5 separate regions of the Homo sapiens genome follow, and regions 2, 3, 4 and 5 are each linked to region 1. Evidence: fine-mapped expression QTL. A gene starts in region 1. Each other region holds a variant in brackets. All regions are shown on one strand. Distances are from middle to middle. Region 1 holds the start of PLOD1 (procollagen-lysine,2-oxoglutarate 5-dioxygenase 1). Region 2 holds the start of RNU5E-1 (RNA, U5E small nuclear 1). Region 3 overlaps PLOD1 (procollagen-lysine,2-oxoglutarate 5-dioxygenase 1). Region 4 overlaps MFN2 (mitofusin 2). Region 5 overlaps CLCN6 (chloride voltage-gated channel 6).

The links.
Region 2: its variant is fine-mapped to the expression of PLOD1 in monocytes (Schmiedel 2018, PIP 0.95).
Region 3: its variant is fine-mapped to the expression of PLOD1 in whole blood (TOPMed, PIP above 0.99).
Region 4: its variant is fine-mapped to the expression of PLOD1 in whole blood (INTERVAL, PIP 0.94).
Region 5: its variant is fine-mapped to the expression of PLOD1 in whole blood (INTERVAL, PIP 0.91).

Annotation. Positions count from the first base shown.
Region 1 is chr1:11,932,673-11,937,774 of GRCh38, reverse strand. PLOD1 (procollagen-lysine,2-oxoglutarate 5-dioxygenase 1) reads right to left here and starts at 3,058. Exons shown (of 19, transcript NM_000302.4): 1 at 2,920-3,058. The coding sequence starts at 2,995. RefSeq lists a silencer at 2,780-3,249 and enhancers at 2,426-3,349, 3,470-3,519, 3,350-4,275.
Region 2 is chr1:11,903,259-11,908,360 of GRCh38, reverse strand. RNU5E-1 (RNA, U5E small nuclear 1) reads right to left here and starts at 209; the gene lies at 89-209. RefSeq lists silencers at 1-69, 94-143 and enhancers at 1-81, 314-423. The variant AG/G (reference allele first, on the strand shown) is at 3,007.
Region 3 is chr1:11,955,278-11,960,379 of GRCh38, reverse strand. PLOD1 (procollagen-lysine,2-oxoglutarate 5-dioxygenase 1) reads right to left here. Exons shown (of 19, transcript NM_000302.4): 7 at 3,366-3,463; 8 at 2,437-2,538; 9 at 1,733-1,864. Among named protein-coding and RNA genes, the nearest start is that of MFN2, 23 kb to the left of the region's middle. The variant A/G (reference allele first, on the strand shown) is at 2,147.
Region 4 is chr1:11,988,420-11,993,521 of GRCh38, reverse strand. It overlaps MFN2 (mitofusin 2), which reads right to left. Exons shown (of 19, transcript NM_014874.4): 3 at 4,179-4,357; 4 at 832-967. The coding sequence starts at 4,353. Among named protein-coding and RNA genes, the nearest start is that of MFN2, 11 kb to the right of the region's middle. The variant A/G (reference allele first, on the strand shown) is at 2,945.
Region 5 is chr1:11,841,756-11,846,857 of GRCh38, reverse strand. It overlaps CLCN6 (chloride voltage-gated channel 6), which reads right to left. Exons shown (of 23, transcript NM_001286.5): 23 at 3,728-5,102. NPPA (natriuretic peptide A) reads left to right here. Exons shown (of 3, transcript NM_006172.4): 3 at 844-1,149. The coding sequence ends at 849. It also overlaps NPPA-AS1. Among named protein-coding and RNA genes, the nearest start is that of NPPA, 3.5 kb to the left of the region's middle. RefSeq lists an enhancer at 1-39. The variant A/G (reference allele first, on the strand shown) is at 2,839.

The sequences.
Region 1 (5,102 bases):
TACCTCAGTAGCACACTGATCCTGTCCTCCGCCCATAGCAGCACCCTCTGTGAAGGCTTCCTTGGATCTGCTCTGCCCTCCTCCTGTCACTTGCTGGGGATCAGGGTGCCTAACGCCCTGTCATCAGTCTGGTCCCTCTTCAATTCAACTCACCGGGCTTCATCATGGGCAGCTGCGGTTTCTCTCCTGGGATGGTCTGGGATGCAGGCACCCCATGTCAGCAGAAGCAGGGGGATCAAAGGCCCAGAAAACTAGGCCACAACAGGGCTCCTGGCCAGTGAGGGGACCCAGGCCGAGAGCCCTTTGCACAGCCCGGTGGTCAGCGTTTCCATCACTGGACTTTCTGAGCTGTCTTACTGCCCTGCTGTAAGCCAGCAGCCCTGGGACTGGGAGAGAAAATGCCCTTTGCCGAGGGCCTTTCATGGGCCAGGCATTGAGCTGAACTCTCCCCAACTTCATCCCCTGGAATTCTTGTTAGAGCTCCAGGCGTGAGGTAGTATCACCGGGTCTTGCAGGCTAGAACACCAAGCCTCACAGAGAGCAAGCACCGCCGGCTTTACCACTGGGAGACGTGGGGCCTTGGGCACAACCTGGTCCGAGGGAGGTACTCAAGAAATGGCAGTTCCTGGCCGGGCGCGGTGGCTCACGCCTGTAATCCCGGTACTTTGGGAGGCCGAGGTAGGCGGATCACCTGAGATCAAGAGTTTGAAACCAGCCTGACCAACATGGTGAAACCCCGTCTCTACTAAAAATACAAACATTAGCTGAGCGTTGTGGCATCCGCCTGTAATCCCAGCCACTAGGGAGATTGAGGCAGGAGAATCGCTTGAACCTGGGAGGCGGAGGTTGCAGTGAGCTGAGATCGCACCATTGGACTCCAGCCTGGGCAACGGGAGTGAAACTCTGCCTCAAAAAAAAAAAAAGAAAGAAAAGAAAAGAAATGGTGGTTCCTGGCTGGGTGCAGTGGCTCCCACCTGTAATCCCAGCACTTTGGGAGGCCGAGGCAGGAGGATCACTTGAGGTCAGGAGTTTGAAACCAGCCTGGCCAACATGGCGAAACCTCGTCTCTTCTAAAGATACAAAAATTAGCTGGGCGTGGTGGTGCAGGCCTGTAATCCCAGCTACTTGGGAGGCTGACGCACGAGAATTGCTTGAACCCAGGAGACAGAGGTTGCAGTGAGCCAAGGTCATGCTACTGCACTCCAGCCTGGGGGACACAGTGAAACACTGTCTCAAAAAAAAATTAAATAAATAAAATAAAATAAATGGTGGTTCCCATTCCTGACCCAAAGAACCCGGGATCCTTCTGGTGATACAGTTTCAGGTTCTCCAGGAGGGTAAGCTGAAGGAGGAGAATGCCATGGAAAGTACCGCCACTTCTGCTTGGCTTTGCTGGGACTGTCCGCAGTCTATGCCCTTCTCGGGACAGCCCTGGAGATGGCCCATGCCAGGGAGGGCTGGGGAGGAGGGAAGCACCCACTCAGGACAGTGGGGCACACACTGCAATCCAATCTGCCTTGAGGAAGTAGAAAGAGCGCTAGACTGGAGCCCAGCTGACCTCGGACCAACCACCTCTGTCTGGACCACCCTGGACAGTCACTTCACCTGTCTGGGCCTCAGTTTCCTCAAGTATAAACTGCAGAGAGGGCCAGGTGTGGTGGCTCACGCCTGTAATCCCAACACTTTGGGAGACCAAGGTGGGCTGATCACCTGAGGTCAAGAGTTCAAGACCAGCCTGGCCAACATGGTGAAACCCCATCTCCACCAAAAATACAAAAATTAGCTGGGCATGGTGGCACATGTCTGTGATCCCACCTACCTGGGAGGCTGAGGTACAGGAGTCGCTTGAACCGGCCGGGCGCGATGGCTCACGCCTGTAATCCAAACATTTTGGGAGGCTGAGGCCAGCGGATCAAGAGGTCAGAAGTTCAAGACCAGCCTGGCCAGCATGGTGAAACCCCATCTCAACTAAAAATACAAAAATTAGCTAGGCATGGTGGCACGTGCCTGTAATCCCAGCTACTTGGGAGGCCGAGGCAGGAGAAACACTTGAACCTGGGAGGTGGAGGTTGCAGTGAGCTGAGATTGTGCCACTGCATTCCAGCCTGGGCGACAGAGCGAGACTCCATCTCAAAAAAAAAAAAAAGAATTGCTTTTACCTGGGAGGCAGAGGTTGCAGTAAGCCGAGATCGCATACTGCGTTCCAGCCTGGGCGACAGAGCAAGACTCTGTCTCAAAAATAAATAAATAACTAAATAAATAATACATTAAGTAAAATAAAAAAAATAAACTGCAGAGAGGAAGACCACCCTGGCAGGGGCTAAGCAGACCACAGGGGACATGGATGAAAGCACAAACTTATCCACAAAGTGAGCCACACCTTCTACCCCCATTCCTCCCCTGTCCCCCTCAAGACCCCTCATTCCCATGGTCATGAGGCCTCCTGGCTCTGGAACCAGACACCTGGGTGGGTGGGGTAAATCCTGGTTCCAAGGCCCACAAGTTGTATGATCTTGGGCAAGTGAATGAACTCTGGAGCCTCAGTTTGCCCAGCTGGAAAACGGGGATAATAGAAGGAAACACTTACCAGGGTAGCAATCATGCCTAACTGATGCCTGGCCCATAGTGAGCACTGGGCAGAATAGCCATTGTCGGTTATTATTATGAAAACTATTATTATTTGAGCCTTTCTGTGCTGAATGGGACTCAGCTGTCACCCTTTCCTTCCCGAAGCAGGAACCGCAGCCCCAAGAGGGGAAGTGATTTGTTCAAGTCACCAGCGATTAAGTGGACAAGGAGCCGGAACCCAGACTCCCTCTCCAGCCCAGGCCTCCCATTCAGGTCGTTCCCAGGGAGGCAGCCCGACACCAGCCCTCCCGCCCGGATCCGCGCTCCCGCCCCCGGCCTTCGCTCCCTCACCCTCCGGCTTGGCGTCGCCCTTCGCTTCGGCCAGCAGCAGCCAGCCCAGCAGGGCCAGTAGCAGCAGGGGCCGCATGGCCGAGGTATGGGGGACGATCGGCCGACCCGGCGGCGCTCGCAGGGCTGGAAACTTCGCGACGGGGCCGCAGGTCCCGCTGCCACGCACTGGGCCCGCCCCGGGGGCGGCACCACCCCGCCCCTCCACGCCCTCCCCCGCGCCTGCCTAGTGGGGAAGGGTTTTTCTGCAGATATGCCCAAGTCCGGGCCTCTCCTTATTAGGGCAGCTCCCTCCGCCTCTCTGTGCAGCTCCCGGGGCTTCCGTCAGGCCCTGCCGTCTCCCTCCCTTCTCTGGGGGGTTCACTCCGACCAGAAAGAGGGCGGTGAGAGGAGAGAGAGGCCACGATTTCTAGACCCCAGGTTCTGGGCCAAGGCTCCATGGCATCGATAGCCACGAGCCCCTGTTTGCTCGCCTGAAAAGTGGGGCTTATGATAGCGTCTGTTCATTGGGTCTTGCACGGGTTAATGGCGTTACCTGTAGCGCACTTAGAGCAGCCCCAGGTCAAGCCCCAAGGAAGTCAGTTTTCATGATTTCATTAGTCCTTCCCAAAACCCAAGGGGTGAGGGTGGGCACGGATGCGTTCAGAGACACGGACACCCCTACGTGGCCCACCCAGGCACTGGAAATGCAGGAAGCCCGTCTCCACTCTCCCCAAAAGGCAATCACTTGATCTCCCTTTGTGTCCCTGGGAGGCAAACCTCTGAGCCAAGGAAAGTCTTGCTTCTGAGGTTTTTTTGTTTTTTGTTTTTTTTTTTTCATTTTTTTGAGACAAGGTTGCTTTCAGTTGCCCAGGCTGGAGTGCAGTGGCGTGATCACCGCTTGCTGCAGCCTCGACCTCCCGGGCTCAAGCGATCCTCCCATCTCAGCCTCCCAAGTAGGTGGGATCACAGGCCTGAGCCACCATCCCTGGCTAATTTTTCTACCTTTTTTTTGAGACAGAGTTTCACTCTTGTTGCCCAGGCTGGAGTGCAACGGCGAGATCTGGGGTCACGGCAACCTCCGCCTCCCGGGTTCAAGCAATTCTCCTGCCTCAGCCTCCCGAGTAGCTGGGATTACAGGCATGTGCCACCATGCCCAGCTAATTTTGTATTTTTAGTAGAGGTGGGGTTTCTCCATGTTGGTCAGGCTGGTCTTGAACTCCCACCCTCAGATGATCCACCCGCCTTGGCCTCCCAAAGTGCTGGGATTACAGGCTGAGCCACCACACCCTAGAGAGATTAATTGTTAAATGAGTAAACGAATCGATGAAAGTTTTTAGGGCCTCTTCACAGATACCCAAAGCCCAACAAACAACTCAACGGTCTCTAGAGTAAGGGCTCCTGGACCAGATGTCAGACAGGGGCAGCCACCTCTGAACAAAAATCCTTCCTTCCTTGGAAGAAACCTCAGACAGAGGCCGGGCACGGTGGCTCACACCTGTAATCCCAGCACTTTGGGAGGCTGAGGCGAGCGGATCACAAGGTCAGGAGTTCAAGACCAGCTTGACCAACATGGTGAAACTCTGTCTCTACTAAAATACAAAAATTAGCCAGGCGTGGTGGCGCGCGCCTGTAATCCCAGCTACTCAGGAGGCTGAGGCAGTAGAATCACTTGAACCCAGGAGACTGAGTTTGCAGTGAGCCAAGATTGAACCACTGCACTCCAGCCTAGGCGACAGAGCGAAACTCTGTCTCAAAAAAAAAAAAAAAGAAAAAAAAGACCTTAGACAGGGACCCAGGAGCCTTCTCCCAGCTGATTAGGCTCCAGAGGAGTGGGTGGCAGGTGTAACCCTAGGCTGGCAGGGGGTTCCCTGCAGGGGGCAAAGGGGTGGGAGAGAAGGAATGTCACGAATGTCAATGGACGACAAAGAGCAGGCTATGCGTCTGTGCTGGGAAAAGATATTAATAAATCAACAGCATTCAGATGAGCTGGGTGCGGTGGTTCATGCCTGTAATCCCAGTACTTTGGGAGGCCAAGACAGCCAGATTGCTTGAGCCCAGGAATTCAAGACCAGCCTGGGCAACATGGTGAAACCCCTTCTTTACTAAAAAAACAAAAATTAGCTGGGCATGGTGGCATGTGCCTGTAGTCCCAGCTATTCAGGAGGCTGACTGGGGAGGATCACTTGAGCCCGGGAGGTGGAGGT
Region 2 (5,102 bases), 29 kb after region 1:
CCGTAACTCGCATTTGTTCTATAATACACTTTACATAGCTCCACACGCGATTTAACGGAATCGCATCTGTTTTTAAAACACTTAAAATAAGCCCTGCTAAGAAACGCAAGGCCTCAAAAAATTGGTTTCAGACTCACACTCGTTTCTCTCCACGGAAATCTTTAGTAAAAGGCGAAAGATTTATACGATTTGAAGAGAAACCAGAGTATAACATCAGTCGTCGACACTACAGTTCTCAGGTAACGGCTACTCCTAAACGGGTAATGGTAACTTTCCTTCGGCCCAAAAGAGCTATTGACTTCAGCCTTTTTCTTCAGACAATTCTGGGACAGCAATCTCGGTTCCGAGAAAGATATGTTGAAGGAAAAAGGGGAAATAATTTTAAAGACGAACATTATTTAGTGCGCAATGCATTGTGGGTATGCAAATAAAGTCTCACCAATCACGCTCCAGTTTCAGGAAATACCTTAAATGGTTCATGCGTTTTAGCGCTGCGCCTGAGGCCACCACCGCGGGGCAGAGCAGAGTCTGGTCCCAGAAGAAAAAGGCTGACTTTACCTGCTTTACTTACAGTGGGCGAGCTATTAGATCGGTGCAAAAGTAATTGCGGTTTTTGCAATTTTTTTTTTTTTTTAATTGCACAATTAGCCTAATAAGTAAAGAATTTTTTTGAACTTAAAAAAAAAAGTAAAAAAAAAATTATCTTGGCTGGACTCCGTGGCTCACCCTTGTAATCCCAGCACTTTGGGTGGCTGAGGCAGGCTGATCGCCTGAACTAGGGGTTCAAGACCAGCCTGGGCAACATAACGAGAGCGTGTCTCCAAAAAAAAATTCTTACACTTCTAGCCACTCCAGACCTACTGCAGGCCTGGGGATTGGGCCCAGCCCCCTGAGTCTGAACTCATCCTCCGTGTGATTCTGATGGAGGCCACATTGAGAACCTCTGTTGGCAACTGTTGTGCCTGAAATATGGAGAGTGAGGAGTTTGGGAGACAGATTACTGGCTGAGCAGGGGAAGGCCTGGGAAAGGCTGTGAAATGAGGAGAGAAAAGGCCAAGGAAGGTCCCTGGGGGATGGTGGCATAAAAGGAGGGGACAGTGCAGGAGCCTATGAAAGAGATTAGAGAAATTGAGGGAGGCAGGAGGAAAACCTGGACTGGGAGCCTCACAGAAACCGAGGGCAGAGAGGAGGTTTCCTGGCCGGGCGCGGTGGCTCACGCCTGTAATCCCAACACTTTGGGAGAGAGGAAGGAAACAGTAGGTGAGGAGGGGCAGGAGATGGGGAGGGGGCGGTAGCTGGCTCCTGGTTGCAGATGGGAAGGAGAAGCGGTGCAGGTGCCTCCCCGCAGTGATCGTGGTCCATGGAGCCTGGGCCCCCCCACTACCCCTGTTCTCTCACTCCCCTGCAGCCCCTCCTTTGCTGGCCCCTCTTTCCTTCCGTCTTCTCACCTGGGAAGATCCCAGGGCCATCTTTCCAGCCTCTGCCCTGTAGCAGCTGAACTGCTGGAAAAATTCCACAGCAGGGGAACCTCCCATACAGGCCTCCACTTCACCTGTTTCTCTGATTGGCTCCATTTCCCACCTCAAGATGTCCTTTTTAGGCCGAGTGCGGTGGCTCACGCCTGTAATCCCAGCACTTTGGGAGGTGGAGGCAGGCGGATCACCTGAGGTCAGGAGTTCGAGACCAGCCTGGCCAACATGGGGAAACCCCGTCTCTACTAAAAATACAAAAATTATCTTGGTGTGTCGACGCGTGCCTGTAATCCCAGCTACTTGGGAGGCTGAGGCACGAGAACCACTTGAACCCAGGAGGCGGAGGTTGCAGTGAGCCGAGATCGCACCATTGCACTCAAGCCTGGGTGAAAGAGCAAAACTCCGTCTCAAAAAACAAACAAACACACAAACACCCCTTTTAATCCTTCTCTCCCTTCAGCTTCCCCCTCTGCAACTCACCGTGTCAGCCCACGACATCCCAGGGGCTTCCTTGAGAGGCCAGACGCCCTCATCTTCCCAGCCCGCCTGCAACCGCATCTGGCTCATCTTCTGCCTCCTCCCATGAACGGCCCTCCTCCTGGGCTTTGAACCCCAACTCCACAAAGATGGCTCCCCTCCCATGCAATCCCCCAGCAGCACCCTCCGTGTCCCTCCCGCTGTGGTCTGAATGTCGTGGCCACTCACACATCCACAGGCTGAAATGTAATCTCCAAGGTGATGGTATTGATAAGTGGGGCCTCTGGAAGGTGATTGGGTCATGGATGGGATCAGTGTCCTTATAAAAGGGTTTGAGGGAGCGAGTTTGTCCCTTTCACCCTCCCATCAAGTGGGGACACAGGGAAGGCGCCGTCTATGAGGAACAGGCCTTCACTAGACAGCAAATTTGCTGATGCCTTGATGTTGGACTTCCCAGCCTCCAGAACTGTGAGCAATAAATAACTTTCTGCTGTTTATAAATTATCCAGTTTAAGGTATTTTGTCATAGCACCTGAACTAGGACACCCCCCCTACTGGCTCATCTTCTAGACGGATGAGTAGGCTTCCTTACCTCCTAACCTGAGAGAGAGAGAGAGAGAGGAGTGAAGGAGGAAGTGGGGAAGGAAGAAAGACTTCCTAAACCTCATCACCATCAGCCACAACAAAGCAAAGCACTTTTACTTTGTATTTCTATTTTAGAAAAAAATCTGATGGAAATCTCTTTAGTAAAAAGAAACTTGGGGCCGGGCGCAGTGGCTCAGGCCTGTAATCCCAGCACTTTGGGAGGCCAAGGCGGGCGGATCCCCTGAGATCAGGAGTTCGAGACCAGCCTGGCCAACATGGTGAAACCCCGTCTCTACTAAAAACACAAAAATTAGCTGGGCATGGTAGGCCCCTATAGTCCCAGTTACTTGGGAGGCTGAGGCAAGAGAATCGCTTGAACCCAGGAGGCAGAGGTTGCAATGAGCCAAGATCGTGCCACTGCACTCCAGCCTGGGGGACAGAGCAAGACTCCGTCTCAAAAAAAAAAAAAAAA[AG/G]ATTTCCAAACAGGGACTCAAACAGATGACTCTACATGAGCATTAATAGCAGCGTTGTTCATAACAGCCCAAAGATGACAACAATCCCAGTGTCTATCCGCTGATGAGTGGATAAACAAAATGTGGTTTACCCATACAATGGAATACTATTCAGCCATAAAAAGGAGAGAAATTCTGGTACACACTACATTGTAGATGAAATTTGAGGATGCATGCTACATGAAAGAAGCCAGCCACAAAAAGGCATAGATTGTGTGACTGTACTTAGGTAAAATATCTAGAAGAGGGGATAATAGGAGTTATTGGGTAACGTATAGAGTTTCTGTTTCGGGTGATGAAAAATTTTGGAAATGGATGGCAGTGATGGTATTACAACATTGTGAATGTTTTGAATTTATTTTTAATTTTTAGAGATGAGGTCTTGCTCTGTTGCCCAGTTAATTTTTAATTTTTAATTTTTTTTTTTATTTTTTGTAGAAACTAGGTCTCATTATATTGGCCAGGCTTAATTTGTTTATTTTTATTTTTTGTGAGCTGTAATCTTGCTATGTTGCTCAGGCTGGTCTCAAACTTTTGGCCTCAAGTGATCCTCCTGTCTCAGCCGCCCAAAGTGTTGGGATTACAGGTGTGAACCACCATGCCTGGCCCATTTCCCCTGATCAGGGAAAATGCGTTGTTATGTGTGATATTTGGTGTGAGTTTTTTTTTTTGTTTTTTTTTTTTTGGCGGAGTCTCGCTCTGTTGCCAGGCTGGAGTGCAGTGACGTGGTCTCAGCTCACTGCAACCTCCAACTCCCTGGTTCAAGTGATTCTCTTGTCTCAGCCTCCCAAGTAGTTGGGATTACAGGCACACGCCACCATGCTCAGCTAATTTTTGTGTTTTTAGTAGAGACAAGGTTTCACCATGTTGGCCACGATGGTCTCGATCTCCTGACATCATGATCTGCCTGCTTCAGCCTCCCAAAGTGCTGGGACTACAGGCATGAGTCACCGCGTCTGGCCTGGTGTAAGATTTTAACATACAGCCTGTATTAATTATGTTAGGGAAATTTCCTTCTATCATCAGGTTTCTCTGTGCTGAGTTTTTTTATCAAATGCTCTTCAGAATCTATTGAGATAGTTGTATAAATTTTCTCCTTTGAATTCAGCAATATGGTGAATTACATTGCTAGATTTTTTTTTTTTTTTTTGAGACAGAGTCTCACTCTGTTGCCCAGGCTGGAGTGCAGTGGCACGATCTCAGCTCACCGTAACCTCCGCCTCCAGGTTCAAGCGTTTCGTGTGCCTCAGCCTCCTGAGTAGCTGGGATTACAGGTGTGCACCACCATGCCTGGCTAGTTTTTCTATTTTTAGTAGAAATGGGGTTTTGTCCTGTTGGCCAGGCTGGTTGCAAACTCCTGACCTCAGGTGACCCACCCACCTTGGCCTTCCAAAGTGCTGGGATTACAGGTGTGAACCACTGCTCCTGGGCCATTGCTAGATTTTTGGATGTTAATTATTTGCATTCCTGAGATAAGGCCCATTTAAGTCATAATACATTTTTCTTTATAATTTGATTTTTCCTTTTTCTTTTTTTTGAGACAGAGTCTTGTTCCGTCACCAAGGCTGGAGTGCAGTGGCACAATCTCAGCTCACGGCAGCCTCAACCTCCCAGGCTCAAGCAATCCTTCCACCTCAGCCCCCTAAGTAGCTGGGACTACAGGCATGCAGCACCACACCCGGCTAAGATTTTTCCTTTTTGAAAATGAAAAATGCAAGACTCAAAGATCAAAACTATGTAAAAACATATATTCAGAGAAGTCCCACTCCTGTCCCTAGCCCCTTCGCCCAGTTTCCACTCATCCCCATTTTCAATAGTTTCTTTATTTAAAGAAAATTTGTTTACATTTTGTTATTTGTAATAGAGATGGGGTCTCACTATGTTGCCCAGGCTGGTCTCTAACTCCTGGGCTTAAGTGATCCTCCCAACTCCCAAAGTGCTGGGATTTCAGGTGTGAGCCACTGCACCCAACACATTTTCAATAGTTTCTAGTTTAAATTTTCTGTGTGTGTGTGTGTGTGTGTGTGTGTGTTTTGTAACAATAACCACACACATA
Region 3 (5,102 bases), 23 kb before region 1:
AGGATCCCACATCCAGAGACATTGTTGATTCCTGGGTGTGGCCCAGAGATCCACTTTGTTACAAAATGTGCCAGGTGATCCTCAACTTCGCTTTGAAAAACAACAGTCCAGGCCAGGCACAGTGGCTCACGCCTGTATTCGCAGCACTTTGGGAGGCCGAGGCGGGTAGATCACCAGGTCAGGAGTTCAAGACTAGCCTGGCCAAGATGGTGAAACCACGTCTCTACTAAAAATACAAAAATTAGCCGGGCATGGTGGCAGGCACTTGTAATTCCAGGTACTCGGGAGGAGGCTGAGGCAGAGAACTGCTTGAACCCGGGAGGCGGAGGTTGCAGAGGCAGAGAACTGCTTGAACTTGGGAGGCGGAGGTTGCAGTGAGCCAAGATCGCACCATTGCACTCTAGCCTGGGAGACACAGCAAGACTCCATCTCAAAAAAAAAAAAAAAAGGAAAAACAACCATCCAGCTGGGTGCGGTGGCTCATGGCTGTAATCGCAGCACTTTGGCAGGCGGAGGCAGGCAGATCACGAGGTCAGGAGATCGAGACCATCCTGGCCAACATAGTGAAACCCTATCTCTACTAAAATACAAAAAATTAGCCAGGCACGGTGGCAGGCGCCTGTAATCCCAGCTACTCGGGAGGCTGAGGCAGGAGAATGGCTTGAACCTGGGAGGCAGAGGTTGCACTGAGCTGAGATCACGCCATTGCACTCCAGCCTGGGCAACAGAGCAAGACTCCGTCTCAAAAAAAAAAAAAAAAATACAAAAAATTAGCCAGTTGTGATGGCGCATGCCTGTAGTCTCAGTTACTTGGGAGGCTGAGGCAGGAGAATCGCTTGAACCCAAGAGGCAGAGGTTGCAGTGAGCCGAGATCGTGCCACTGCACTCCAGCCTGGGTGACACAGCGAGACTCTGTCTCAAAAAAAAAAAAAAAGAAAAGAAAACCAATTTGACTGCCACCAGGTACAATTAGGAAGGTAGGAAGGATTAACAGTGACAGGGATGGAAGTGAAGATGACAACAGTTAGAAGCAACTAGATGCGTCCTGTGCACCAGGCACCTTTTACGAACTTCGCATGTCAGCTTGCTTAGCCCTTGCAGCAATTCTGTGTGATTGCACAATTATTATCCCTATTTTATTTTATTTATTTATTTATTTATTTTTATTTTTTTTGAGACGGAGTTTTGCTCTTGTTGTCCAGGCTGGAGTGCAATGGCGCAATCTCGGCTCACTGCAACCTCTGCCTCCCAGGTTCAAGCGATTCTCCTGCCTCAGCCTCCTGAGTAGCTGGGATTACAGGCATCTGCCACCACACCCAGCTTAATTTTGTATTTTTAGTAGAGGCAGGGTTTCACCATGTTGGTCAGGCTAGTCTCGAACTCCCGACCTCAGATAATCTGCCCACCTGGGCCTCCCAAAGTGCTGGGATTACAGGCATGAGCCACCGCGCCCGACTTTTATGCCTATTTTATAGATGAGAAACTAAAGCACAGAGAGGTTGAGTAATGTGCCCAAGGTCACACAGCCAATAAAATAGCGGCGCTGGGATTCAAACTCACCCAGTCTGACTCCAAAGTTAACTCAGTGATTTGGGGACACAGTCCACTGGTGATTGTCATTTGGCCCAGATAAGCTAGATTCGGTGAGACCCTCAGAGGTCTCGGGCTACCTTGTGAAGCTGGGCCCTGGATCTAAGCCACATGACGACCCCACAGAGCGCCTGTTACTCACGTGGTTGTGGATGAAAAGTCGCATGTGTTTCTGGGGGTAGTGGAGCCGCAGGAGCCGCTGGAAGAACAGGGACACAAACGGCGTGGGCTGTTCGATGAACACGCCGACCAGGACCGTGGGCAGAGCTTCATCCTGCACCAGGGAGGGCGGCACAAGAGTCCAGCAGTGTCCAGTCACAGCACTGCCACTCCACCCCAGGGTGGCCCAAGGGAGTCAGAGCCAGAATCAGAAGCATGTAGACTTCCCAAGAAAGGTGCCCGGGCCGGGGAACTCCAGTCAGGGGGTACGGGGGGGCAGGGAAGCAGCAGGAGGGTGCCCCGGGGAGAGAGCAGCAGGAGCCCAGGCCTGGAACAAGGACTCGGTTGAGGGCCTGCTGTCAGGAGATCGTGGCTGGCGTGGTGTTCGAGGTGAGTC[A/G]TAAATGAGGATGAGGTTCATGGGATGGGGAGGGGGCTGCAGGAGAGCCTGAAGGACCAGGCAGAAGAAACCAGAACCTGGACATCTCGGGGGAAGCTAGAGACATGCAATCTGAGAGGGCTTCCAGGAGGAGGCACTTGGGTGGCAACCGGGATAGAACCCCAGGCAGGGAGGTGACCCCTTCACTTTCCACCAAAGACAATGGAGTCTATTCCAGAATCACCCATCTCGCCATCTCAGGGGACTGAGCCCCCCGTGTCCCTCAGGCACAGGCCTGGGCGCAGCCTCACCCCAATGCCCTTGAGGCTGCGCAAGCCTTCGTCACACACGGTGCAGCCTGTTTCGAAGGTCCAGAAGCGCGGGATGTAGTTGCCCAGGTAGTTCAACTGCAGCTGTCGGGGAGACGTGGGGTCACAGAGAAGCCAGCCAGCCCCACCTGCCATAGCCCTGACTCACATCTCCCTGGGCCCCCAGTGGGTCAGCACCATCCAGCCCCCTCCCACTCCCTAAGAGGGTCTTGGAGATAATGCTCCATCCCCAGGAGATCACCAAGCCGCTCTGAGAGAGGGCAGGGGAGGGCTTGGCACTCTAGTGCTTCTCCCGAGAGCTTGTAAAATGCAGATTCCTGGGTCCCACCCCGCTCAGAGATTCCATCTGAACAGATCCTGGGTGAAATCAGCAAATTTGCATTTTAAACACATCACATCCTCCTTCCTCTCCCTCATTCCAGCGGTGAAGGACCACACTCAAATATGCTATGAGCTATGAGCCAGTTCCCCAGGGACCAGTGAGGTCCATTCTGTCCCTGGCCGCATCTGCACCCAGTCCCTTCTGTCACCATGAATGCAGGACATCCGTCCTGCTTATGACTATGTCTTACTGTCTGGTGCAAACATGAAATAAAGGTTTACTGAGTGAATAAGTGACTCTGCCCTGGGGTGACAGTGCAGATGGCTCTGGTAGCCCAGCCTAGGCCTGGAAGGGGATGGCAGCCTCCTACGTGTCCTGTGACCAGCAAGAACAGACAGAGTACCACTGACCACCACAGCAGGAAAAGAAGGCATCACGCTGAGCTCAGATGTGAGGACAGAGGCAGTGAGTTCATAGCAGGCCCCAGGAAGGTGGCCCTGGCCCCAGGGAGACACTGTGGGGTCACAGTGAGAATGAAATTAGGGCTCTGGCCCCCTCCCACACTCCCCAGGGGCTGGGGACCCCCTACCTTGGTTGGCCCGTTGCCATGGATCAGGACCGGGAGGGTGTCATAGGCCAGGTTCCTCGCTCTCACATGGCCCATTTCAAACTTGAGCACGACCTCATCTGGGGGTCAGAAAGCACAGTCCCACCCAGCATCAGACCCAGAGGTCAGGCTCAGGGTCCAACCAGCTGGGCTCAAATCCCAGCTGTGCAGTGAGTAGATTATGTCCTCGGGCAAGTCACTTCTCTCTAAGCCTCAGTTTCCTCATCTATAAAATAGGAATAATCCCTTCTTCATGGGGTGAGGGGGAGGATTTGTGTTGAACAAGCGTGGGGCACCAAGCCTGGCCCATCATGAGCACAGAATCCACGGCAACCCCTGTACTTGTTGTGGTTACTTACAGTCAGAAGCAGGGGCTGGGAGAAGAACGAAGACCTGGAACATCCCAGCTCCAGGCACCTCAGAGAAGCCCCAAGAGAAAGGGTCTGGGACGCGCCTTCTCTGAGTAGGCAGAGCAGCACTGAGAAAATGCCAGAGCCACATGCAGGGGAGGCCTGGGCATGATCAGGACAGATCTTGTCCCAGTGGAGGGAGCCCCTGCAGCAGGGTTCCAATACTCATGTTTTTTGTGTGTGTTTTTGTTTTTTGTTTTTTAGAAATGGAGTCTCATTCTATTGCCCAGTGTGGAGTGTAGTGGCATGATCTCGGCTCACTGCAACCTCCGCCTCCCAGGTTCAAGTGATTTTCCTGCCTCAGCCTCCTGAGTAGCTGGGATTACAGGCACATGCCACCACACCCAGCTAATTTTTGTATTTTTAGTAGAGACGGGGTTTCACCATGTTGGTCAGGCTGGTCTTGAACTCATGACCTCTGGTGATCCACCCGCCTTGGCCTCCCAAAGTGCTGGGATTACAGTGCCTGGCCCCCAATACCCATGTTTGACCCTATTAGTCTGCACATAGGAAAATGGGTATTTCAGCTGGGCACGCTGGCGCACACCTGTAATCCCAGCACTTTGGGAGGCCAAGGTGGGAGGATCACTTGAGCCCAGGAGTTTGAGACAAGCCTGCGCAACATAGTGAGACCCTGTCTCTATTTTAAAAATTAAAATAGGGCTGGGCACGATGGCTCACGTCTGTAATCTCAGCACTTTGGGAGGCCAAGGCAGGTGGATCACCTGAGGTCAGGAGTTCGAGACCAGCCTGGCCAACATGGTGAAACCCCATCTCTACTAAAAAAATACAAAAATTAGCCGGGCATGGTGGTGTGCGCCTGTAATCCCAGCTACTTGGGAGGCTGAGGCAGGAGAATCACTTGAACCTGGGAGGCGGAGGTTGCAGTGAGTCGAGAATTCGCCACTGCATTCCAGCCTGGGCGATGGAGCAAGACTCCATCTTAAAAAAGAAGAAAAAAAAAGGAAAACAGATAGCTCCTGACCTGCGTGGATCTGAACTCAGTGCTTCTTAACCCCCAGAAACCACAGGCAAAGGGCATTTTCTGCGTTTCTCTGGGAGCAGAGCCGTAGCTTTCATCAGATTCTCAAAAGGGCCCATTTATCCACAAAATCAGCAATCAGTGGATCCGGTTCACTTCCCTTTTGTAAAGATAAGAAAACTGAGTCCCCTGTGGGGAGGAGGTGTGACTTGCCTGAGGTCACTCAGGAAGACAGGAAGACCTGCGGCAAAGCAATGTCATCACCAGCCACAGACATGAGGCCAGGCCCAGGGATGTTTGCGGCATCAAGGGTCAAGTAGCCTTTTG
Region 4 (5,102 bases), 56 kb before region 1:
CCTCGTGATCCACCTGCCTCGGCCTCCCAAAGTGCTGGGATTACAGGTGTGAGCCACCATGCCCGGCATATTTTTAGATTCTTTGCTTTTGTGATTTTTTTTTGATGCTTGCCTAACATGCATGCACTGTAAAAATAGTTAACAGGGAAATAACTTGAGATGATGGCTAGCTTTGTTTAATGTCTTACGAAATTTTCATGAACAATACAAGCACAATTGTTAAGAACACGTGTATTAAATTCATGTAAGTGGAATAAAAGTTTTATGAATGGAGAAAAAAAAACAAATACTGTATGATTCCACTTACGTGAGACATCTAGAATAGTCAAATTCATAGGGACAGAAAGTAGAATGGTGGTGGCCAGGGCAAGGGACATGTGGGACAGGGAGTTATTGTTTAATGGCTATAATACAAGCTTCAGTTCTGCAAGATGAAAAAGCTCTTGAGACTGGTTGCAAATATACCTACTAGTGAATTGTATGCTTAAAATGGTTAAGGTGGTAAATTTTATATTATATGCCTTTAACCTTAATTAGAAAATAAAAAAAAAAAAGTCAGGCTTGATGGCATGCACCTGCAGTCCCAGCTGCTCAGGAGGCTCAGGTGGGAGGATCACCTGAGCCCAGGGAGGTCGAGGCTGTAATGAGCTTCCAGCCTGGGTGACAGAGAACCCTGTCTCAAAAATCAAATAAATAAATAAAATATAAATTAAGAGGAAAGCAATGAATTCTGAAGCATGTCCCTGCCTGGAACGTTCTGTGACCTTGCACAAAGTGCCTCCCTCCCTCCTAGCCAGGAAGAAAGAAAGGGTGGGTGCCTCAAGGACTTACCGGCCAAAAAAAGCCACTTTCATGTGCCTCCGAGCCAGCACCTCACTGATGCCTCTCACTTTGGATAGGTAACCTTTGACGTCCAGAACCTGTTCTTCTGTGGTAACGGGGTCCAGTTCTGCATTCCTGTACGTGTCTGGAGGTGGGGATTGAAAATGGGTCACCACGTGGTCAGAGGAGTTCCACAGTCCCAAGTCTGGAAGGGCCAGAGCGCCGGCCCTGCTTACCCTAAACGAGTCCACCTCTGGCACCCTGCAGCCGACAGGCTGAGCTCCAGATCCTCTATGGTGGCCCCACGGTGTGGTGGTTAAGAAGATGGCTCAGGAGCAACACTGCCTGGTTCTGAAGCTGGTTCTTACCACTTTCTAGCTCTGTGGCCTCAAGCAAAAGAACCTTTCTGGGTCTTAGTTTCCTTAAGCACAAAACGGAGATAACTACATTATCTACTTCATGAGAACATCGTGAGGATCAAACGAATTGAAACACAAATGCTGTGAATGGCGGCTGGTAGAAGATGAATACTTAAATGTTAACTGCCTTCCTTGTTTATTTTTTCTTAACAAATATTTACGAAGTTCTTACCACATGCCAGGCACTGTTCCTTTCACTTTTCAAATTCATTCTCTCCTTTGGTCCTCTTTATTAACATGGCTCCGGAGTTAGTAAAAGGCAGAGCTATGATTTGAATTAGGCAGCCTGGCTCTGGAGTCCAGGCTCTTAACCACTCTATGTCACTTCTTTTTTTTTTTTTTTTTTTTTTTTTTTTTGAGACGGAGTCTCGCTCTGTCGCCCAGGCTGGAGTGCAGTGGCGGGATCTGGGCTCACTGCAAGCTCCGCCTCCCGGGTTCACGCCATTCTCCTGCCTCAGCCTCCCAAGTAGCTGGGACTACAGGCGCCCGCCACTACGCCCGGCTAATTTTTTGTATTTTTAGTAGAGACAGGGTTTCACCGTTTTAGCCGGGATGGTCTCGATCTCCTGACCTCGTGATCCGCCCGCCTCGGCCTCCCAAAGTGCTGGGATCACAGGCGTGAGCCACCGCGCCCGGCCTCTATGTCACTTCTTGAGGCCCTCCCTGCCCTGGCCCTGTTGGCCTCTTGCCACCCGCTGCCTCACGGTCTCCCTCACCATATCCCCAAACTCACCAGCTTCCTCGGCCCTCTGGCTCCATTCCCTGCTGCCCAAACCCCCTCCCCACTCTCTGAAGAACTGACACACTACACTGCCTTGGGGCAGCGTGGCTCATTCTCACTTGGCCTCCGGTCTAGCTTAGACAGCACTGCCCCCAGGAAGCCTTCTCTGACCACCCCTCTAACCTGAGTCAGGACCCCGGACCCCTTCTCTGTGTGCCCCAGCACCCTGCACTTCTCCCATCTCAGCTCTCACCTCACCATAAGGTAACTGTACAGCTCACCTGTCTGTGTCATCTGCCTCATGAGGGCCACACTATCTGACCCCAGCACCCAGCAGGTGCACAAATGTTTGCTACGTGAGCAGACCTTTGGATCACTGCACTGCTTTTTCCCAGTGCCCTTAACAGGCAGATGGCCAACAAATTACTCCATACAGGAGCAACTGAGTGAGATCCCACCACTGTCCTGTCTAGAACTCGCACCAGACAGGTGCTTCAGCTGGCTGGAACACAGACGGGTGTTTAGCCCCTCTGCACACTCCTGGGAACTATGAGGCTGACAGGCCCCAGCCCTGAGAACACTCCGAAAGCATCTGAAGCATGACAAGGGCCTGCCCAGTGAATTTCCCCCACAGCCAGCGCCATGAAAGGAAATGACCAAGTCAACAACACCCCCATCTCCCCTCCCGCTATGTCCACCGGTCACCTCTGCCCCAGATGCATCAATATTCCTCCCTTATATGGGCACCTGGGCATGGCCTTTGGAATGTCCCTCGGAGGAAGCTGGCTCTCAAGCATGTGACTACACTTAAAAGCGAGAGCCAGCAGGCCAACAAGCTCTTGTTACCTGCCCGTTAGAAACAGTGCCCAGGCAGGAACCATTCTTTCCCTGACCCAGCACAGCTCAGGATCACTCCAGCTCTTTCCCTTCCATTTAAACAACAGGGGAGGCCTCATATTTTCACACACAGAGAAATCAAAGC[A/G]TGCATCACATAAACACCTGCATTACGCATGTGTTTGTCCACCACATCATCTGAGTAGGTGACTCAGAGCTTCCAAGAGGGTTAGTCTGGGCTCCCAGAGGGGAGCGGCCTGATCTACCCCATCTCTGCATGCCCAGCACCTGGCACACGGCTGGCACACCATAGCCACTGATAAACAGGCAATGAGTTGGGATTATTTCAACTACCAATCATACTACTTTAAAATTCAGATTTGTTTTAGTTCAACAAGTATTTAGGAAACACCTTCTGTGGCATCAAGCGCCACGCAAAGGGCAGGGCACAGATGAGGGCATGAAGTTGGACAGTCTCTTTCTTCAAAGGGAGCCTCGTGTAGCAGCCTGGCATGTAAAACAACGAGAAGCCAAGCTGCTCTATTTGAAAGCAGAATGGAAAGAAGGTGGCCCCCCTGAGCCAGGGGCCAACCCCCGAAGCACCACCACTGAACTTCTAGGGTTCTGCAGACTAGAATCTGAAACCACTGTTCACACCTGAGCCCCACTTTCACAAGTGAGGAAACCAAGGGCAGATAAGACTCAGTTACTGGGTCTCCACAGACAATCTCAGGACCTGGCGCCAAAGTGTCCTTCTAAAGAGGGAGCCTGAGGAAGCCAGTGCTGGAGTTGACACTCAGACGAGCGGGGCCCTGGGAACCAGTCCTTCTCTGCTGATAGACAAGGAACTAGAGGTTGGGCTCAAATTAGTAACTAGTAGAAAAGGCATAGGTGACGTGAGTTTCCTATAGTTCTGTCACCAATCTAAAAATATCAAAGAAAGGGCGCCCTGGTCAGGGATCACTGACACCCAAACAGTGCCTGGTATTAATGGCAGCCAGAACTAGGCAAAGGAAAACACGTGGGCTCCGGAGTTGGAGACACCTGGGTAAAACCCTGATCTATTACTTACAAGGTATCGGACAACTCTCAAACCTCAATTTGCTTGCCTTGTAGATGGGGATAAGATTCACCTATCTTTCATGATTAAATGAAACAAAACATGTGGACTTCTTAAAGTAATTACTAAATGGCAGTTCCCTTGTCTTCCTGGCCTCATCTCCCCAGACTCCAATTCCACATGATTTCAAGAGCAGAGCATTTCTAAGGCTATCTGGTTATGACTTCCCTGGGAGCAGAGATATACCTCCCCACCCGCAAATCCCACTAGCTAAATATCTAAACAGGTAAGAGCGGGCCTGGCTGAGCCGGTGCCCCCTTACCTTCAAGGAAGGTGGCGCTCTCCTGGATGTAGGCCCCCAGCTGCTCAAAAATGCCATTGATCTTCTTCTTGGCAGTGACAAAGTGCTTAAGTGGGGATGCATTCACCTCAGCCATGTGTCTCTTATTTTTCTTGACTGTGACGATAGAGTTGCATCGAGAGAAGAGCAGGGACATTGCGCTGCAAGAGAAGCTAACGTGAGCGAACCCAGCAACACCTACCTCGGGACATCCTGCTAGGGAGATGGCGGAATGCTTTGGGGAGAATCAAGAATATGGGGATCTCAGGTCACTGCAACCTCCAGGACTAGAACAAAGGACGGTGAGATAAGAACAGTGTCTCAGGCTGGGCGCGGTGGCTCACCCCTGTAATCTCAGAACTTTGGGAGGTTGAGGCAGGTGGATCACCTGAGGTCAGGAGTTCAAGACCAGCCTGGCCAACATGGTGAAACCCCCGTCTCTACTAAAAATACAGTAATTAGCCAGACCCAATGGCACACACCTGTAATCCCAGCTACTTGGGAGGCTGAGACAGGAGAATCACTTGAACCTGGGAGATGGAGGCTGCAATGAACCAAGATCATGCCATTGTACTCCAGCCTGGGTGACAGGGCGAGATTTTGTCTCAAAAAATAAAACAAAATTAGCATGACACAGTGGCATGCATCTGCAGTCCTAGCTACTTGGGAGTCTGAGGTGGGAGGGTCACTTGAGCCCAGGAGTTTCGGCTGCAGTGACCTATGATCAGTCCACTGCACTCTAGCCTGGGAGACAGAGCAAGACCACATAAAAACACTATTGGTTAGGGGCCAGGTTCAGTGGCTCATACCTATAATCCCAGCACTTTGAGAGGCCAAGGCAGGCAGATCACTTGAACTTTGGAGTTCGAGACAAGCCTAGGCAATGTAGGACCCCGTCTCTATTTA
Region 5 (5,102 bases), 91 kb after region 1:
CGGATCATGAGGTCAAGAGATCAAGACTATCCTGGCCAACATGGTGAAACCCCAGCTCTACTAAAAATACAAAAATTAGCTGGGTGTGGTGGCGGGCACCTGTACTCTCAGCTACTTGGGAGGCTGAGGCAGGAGAATCACTTGAACCCAGGAGGCAGAGGTTGCAGTGAGCAGAGATCACGCCACTGCAGTCCAGCCTAGGTGATAGAGCGAGACTGTCTCAAAAAAAAAAAAAAAAGGCCAGGCACGGTGGCTCACGCCTGTAATCCCAGCGCTTTGGGAGGCCAAGGCGGGTGGATCACGAGGTCAGGAGATGGAGACCATCCTGGCTAACACGGTGAAACCCCGTCTCTACTAAAAATACAAAAAATTAGCCAGGCGTGGTGGCAGGCGCCTGTAAGTCCTAGCTACTCCGGAGGCTGAGGCAGGAGAATGGCGTGAACCCGGGAGGCGGAGCTTGCAGTGAGCAGAGATGGCACCACTGCACTCCAGCCTGGGCGACAGAGCAAGACTCCGTCTCAAAAAAAAAAAAAAAAAAAGCAACTGCCACTAGCACTGGGAAATTAAAATATTCATAGAGCCAAGTTATCTTTGCATGGCTGATTAGCAGTTCATATTCCTCCCCAGAATTGCAAGATCCTGAAGGGCTTAAGTGAAATTTACTCTGATGAGTAACTTGCTTATCAATTCATGAAGCTCAGAGGGTCATCAGGCTGGGGTGGGGGCCGGTGGGAAGCAGGTGGTCAGTAATCAAGTTCAGAGGATGGGCACACTCATACATGAAGCTGACTTTTCCAGGACAGCCAGGTCACCAAGCCAGATATGTCTGTGTTCTCTTTGCAGTACTGAAGATAACAGCCAGGGAGGACAAGCAGGGCTGGGCCTAGGGACAGACTGCAAGAGGCTCCTGTCCCCTGGGGTCTCTGCTGCATTTGTGTCATCTTGTTGCCATGGAGTTGTGATCATCCCATCTAAGCTGCAGCTTCCTGTCAACACTTCTCACATCTTATGCTAACTGTAGATAAAGTGGTTTGATGGTGACTTCCTCGCCTCTCCCACCCCATGCATTAAATTTTAAGGTAGAACCTCACCTGTTACTGAAAGTGGTTTGAAAGTGAATAAACTTCAGCACCATGGACAGAAGACAAATGCCTGCGTTGGTGTGCTTTCTTTCTTCTTGGGAAGAGAATTCAGGCCGATATTCCTTGTCGTTTTACTCTTTGTCAGAGGAAAGAATGCTGAGTTTTTCTTCTTCCTTTCATTTCACCCTCCTTTTTTGGTAGGTGGTTGGGGAGGCCTCAAATTCCACTCCTAGTGGGGTTTTTGTTGTTTTTAGGGGGGAACATTCAGAAAATGAGAGTATTAATTAGATTTTCTCTGGTACATTTCGAGAGAGTTAGGTTCTACAGCTAAGGTAATGGTACTTTTAGTTTTGAAAAGAGTAGGCAGAGTGTTGAATTTAAAAGCTGAGCAGGCCGGGTGTGGTGGCTCACTCCTGTAATCCCAGCATTTTGGGAGGCCAAGGTGGGCAAATCACTTGAGCCCAGGAGTTCAAGACCAGCCTGAGCAATAGAGTGAGACCCCATCTCTACAAAAAATTTAAAAATTAGCCAGGCATGATGATGTGCACCTGTAGTTCCAGCTATTCAGGAGGCCGAAGTGGGAGGATGGCTTGAGCCTGGGAGGTGGAGGCTGCAGTGAGCTGGTATTGTGCCACTGCATTCCAGCCTGGGTGACAGAATGAGACTTGTCTCAAAAAAATAAAAACTGAGCAAAGTGAAGAAAGGTTTGCCATGCAGACAAACTACAAGTTCATGTGCCTTTTGTGTACTAACAAGTATTTGGAAAACAGACATAGTCTTTGCCTAATCCGGGTCTGAAGGGCCTGGGCTTGTATTTTACTAAGAGCTGCTGGAGAAGATGCCGGCTTTTTGTATCTGCTCCTGAAGAGGGTATTTGCTCTGAGCACAAAACACCAGGCAATAAGTTCACCTTAAACAGAGTAAACTGTTTTCCCACCTGTTACCCCCATGGATCCCAACCTCATCAGATTCTATGACACTCCAACACCCCACACCCACACATGCCACTGTGCCTTTATTTCTGCTGTTCCTTCCACCTGGGGTGTCCTTCCTCTGGTCCTCCCGAGGACATTGTACTGATTTCTTAAGGCTCATATGAACACTACTTCTTTCCTGGTACCTCATGCCTAGTAACAATGAGTCCCTTCGTAGGCAGTGTTGCACATGTAACTGTTATAATAGCACACAACACGAGTTGCCTATGTGCAATTGCTTGTGTCTACGTCCCTAGACTGCAAGCTCTTTGAGGGCAAATGCCCCTTCAGCACTCTCAGAGTTGATGCCCCATAAATGTTGGTCAAATTGCCTTGGTCTTGTCCAGAAATTGGGAAAAGAGGAAATGAAGTAGTAACTTGCTCCTTGCGGAGGAAAGGGGGAGGCTCCCAGTGAACTAATGGCAGGGGGTTGAGGTGGGGGGAGAGCCTCACCTAACCACCTCCAGTCAAAATCTTCTCTACCTGGACTTTAAATACCAGGAAAACCAGGGGGTAGAGAATGACAAGGATGAAAGTAAGAGCGACAGGAGACAGCACTGGCCCAAACCTGGCTCCTGAGGTCTGGGATGGTGTTGCGGGTTGCTAGGAGGGGAAGTAGCCCATTCTCAAGGTGTCACCGTAACACAGGTAACACAGGGAGTTCTCATTGAATGAAACTGATTGAAAAATGACAAAAACACAAGGCAGAAAATGCCCCTGGGACTTACAGAACACTTGGGGATGGATGCAGGAGCTGAACTGGCTGCGACCACTGATGGAAC[A/G]GCCACTTCTGTCACTGATGGAATGATGATTTGAAGCAGATCAGAGACAGAGGCCGCTCTTCTTGCAAAACCAAAAGCAAGCGAACAAAAAGCAATGGCCGATGGCAACAACAGAAGCTGGCCACGGGTCTTCACCTCTCCAGACCCAGCAGCAGTTTCACTTCTTCTGGTTGGACATCGGGGCAATCTGTGTGTGGGGCAACTTCCTAAACACCAGGAAGAAACAGAATGGATTCCCCATCCGCTGCTCCTCCAGGACGCGGCTGCTAGCAGGAGGAGATGAATTCTAGAGGAGAGGATCAGGAAGAGTGTTCATCTGAAGGGAGAAACAGACAACGGTGACCTCTGCTAAGATCCACAGGATGAAATCTGTTCTTATTAAGGTCACTGTCTAATACAGAGAAGTGGACCCGCAAGAATGAAGAGCCCCACTGCCCAGCTGCATAGGGAGAGCTCTGAGACTCTAAAACTACGTCCTAGTGTAATTTCCACACATCAGAAAGAGGGGGAGTAAAATAAAAAGCAAGTATCCCTTGAAAGAAAGAGCAGCAGGGCCGGGCGTGGTGGCTCACGCCTGTAATCCCAGCACTTTGGGAGGCCGAGGCGGGTAGGATCACCAGGTCAGGAGATTGAGACCATCCTGGCTAACATGGTGAAACCCCATCTCTACCAAAAATACAAAAAATTAGCCAGGCATGGTGGTGGGCGCCTGTAGTCCCAGCCACTCGGGAGGCTGAGGCAGGAGAATGGCGTGAACCTGGGAGGCGGAGCTTGCAGTGAGCTGAGATGGCACCACTGCACTCCAGCCTGGGTGACAGCGAGACTCTGTCTCAAAAAAAGAAAGAAAGAAAGAAAGCAGCATGGAGACAAAAGGCTAAAGGAGACAGAGGAGACAGAAGACATTTTATTCTCACATGTTAGGGTTACAATGAGAACTCCCAAGTTCCAAAGGTTCAAATAAAAATAGCATTTTACAAATTAAAAAAAATACAATTTATATACACAGTGGAATTAGCTAACATCATACAAACAAACAGTGCAAACAGAAAAAAGGAAGCTGCGACTGCGGCAATGGCCAAGGTCCGCAGAGCTGTGGTGCAATACTGCACATCAATACTGCAGGGCTGGCGAGGCCACCTTGGGCCTCTCGAAAGGCTTTCCTGTCACCCAGGGTCATGTCAGTGCATAATTCTGCATCACAAATGCCATACAGTGGACTGGGTCCTGAAAGTGTCCCTTCCAGCTGGGAACTGTTAAGTTAATCAAGGTCAGGAGCAAATCATCCCTCAGCACAAGGTCCCAAAGCCAGGGCCGGGGGCCCATTGGCCCCACTCCCTGATCACCTCGCCTAGGGGCCATGGAACACCAAGCTGGAGATGAAACACAAAACACCACTTCTTACCACCCGTAGGCTCCCCATCCACAGATCTGCTTTACTGAGGCGACTGATCACTGGGTGATGGGGCTGCTAATGGGTGAGATGCTGAAAAGGCTGGTTTCTAATGGACAGAAATGGAAGGAGCGAGGGTCACAGTTGATTTGTCATGAGTGGAGAAGTTGCTGTCTTTGGGCTTATCTGGAAAGCGCAGATGCAGAGAGAGGAGAAAAGGAAACCACGTGCCTTTGCATGGGGCCTGGGTTTGGGGCCTCCTTGGCAGCCGTCCAGTCAGTTTAGGGGAGGGAGGTATTTGCATTCTACTGTCTATCTCTGGGCTAAACTGATGGGAACAAAATATCTGGTGACTTAAACACAACAGGATGTGCACGAGGGATGAATTCCAATAACATTCACCGGGGCAGCCTCAGGGCAGGCGGCTGCTGATCCAGCCCTCGAGAGGCCGGGGTCCTCCTGCAGGGCGTTAGCTCTGCCAGCTCCAGGAAGGGGCGGGGAGAGGGGACAAAGTGTCTGTGACAGGTGATCACACCATTCTCCTGACTTGGACAATTGGCTTCCTTCTTAATAAAAGGAAGAAATAACGTGATCAAGCTCTGAACACTGCCATAAAACACAGCAGCAGCTGGCCAAATAGTAACATTTAAATAAGAATTGCCTTTTTGGTCCTTGTGATGTCCTGCGCTATTTCCTGGGAGTATTATCCCCATTTCATAAGTCAGGTGCATTCTGGGAAGCAGAAACATTTAGAAGTCAAAGCAATTTTGGTCAGGGAGATAAGAAAATGGGGAAAATGGAGGGGCCACAATCAGCTAGAAAAGACCTTGAAGCAGCCCCATCTCTGGAGTGGAATTATTCCCTAGAGTGTGCT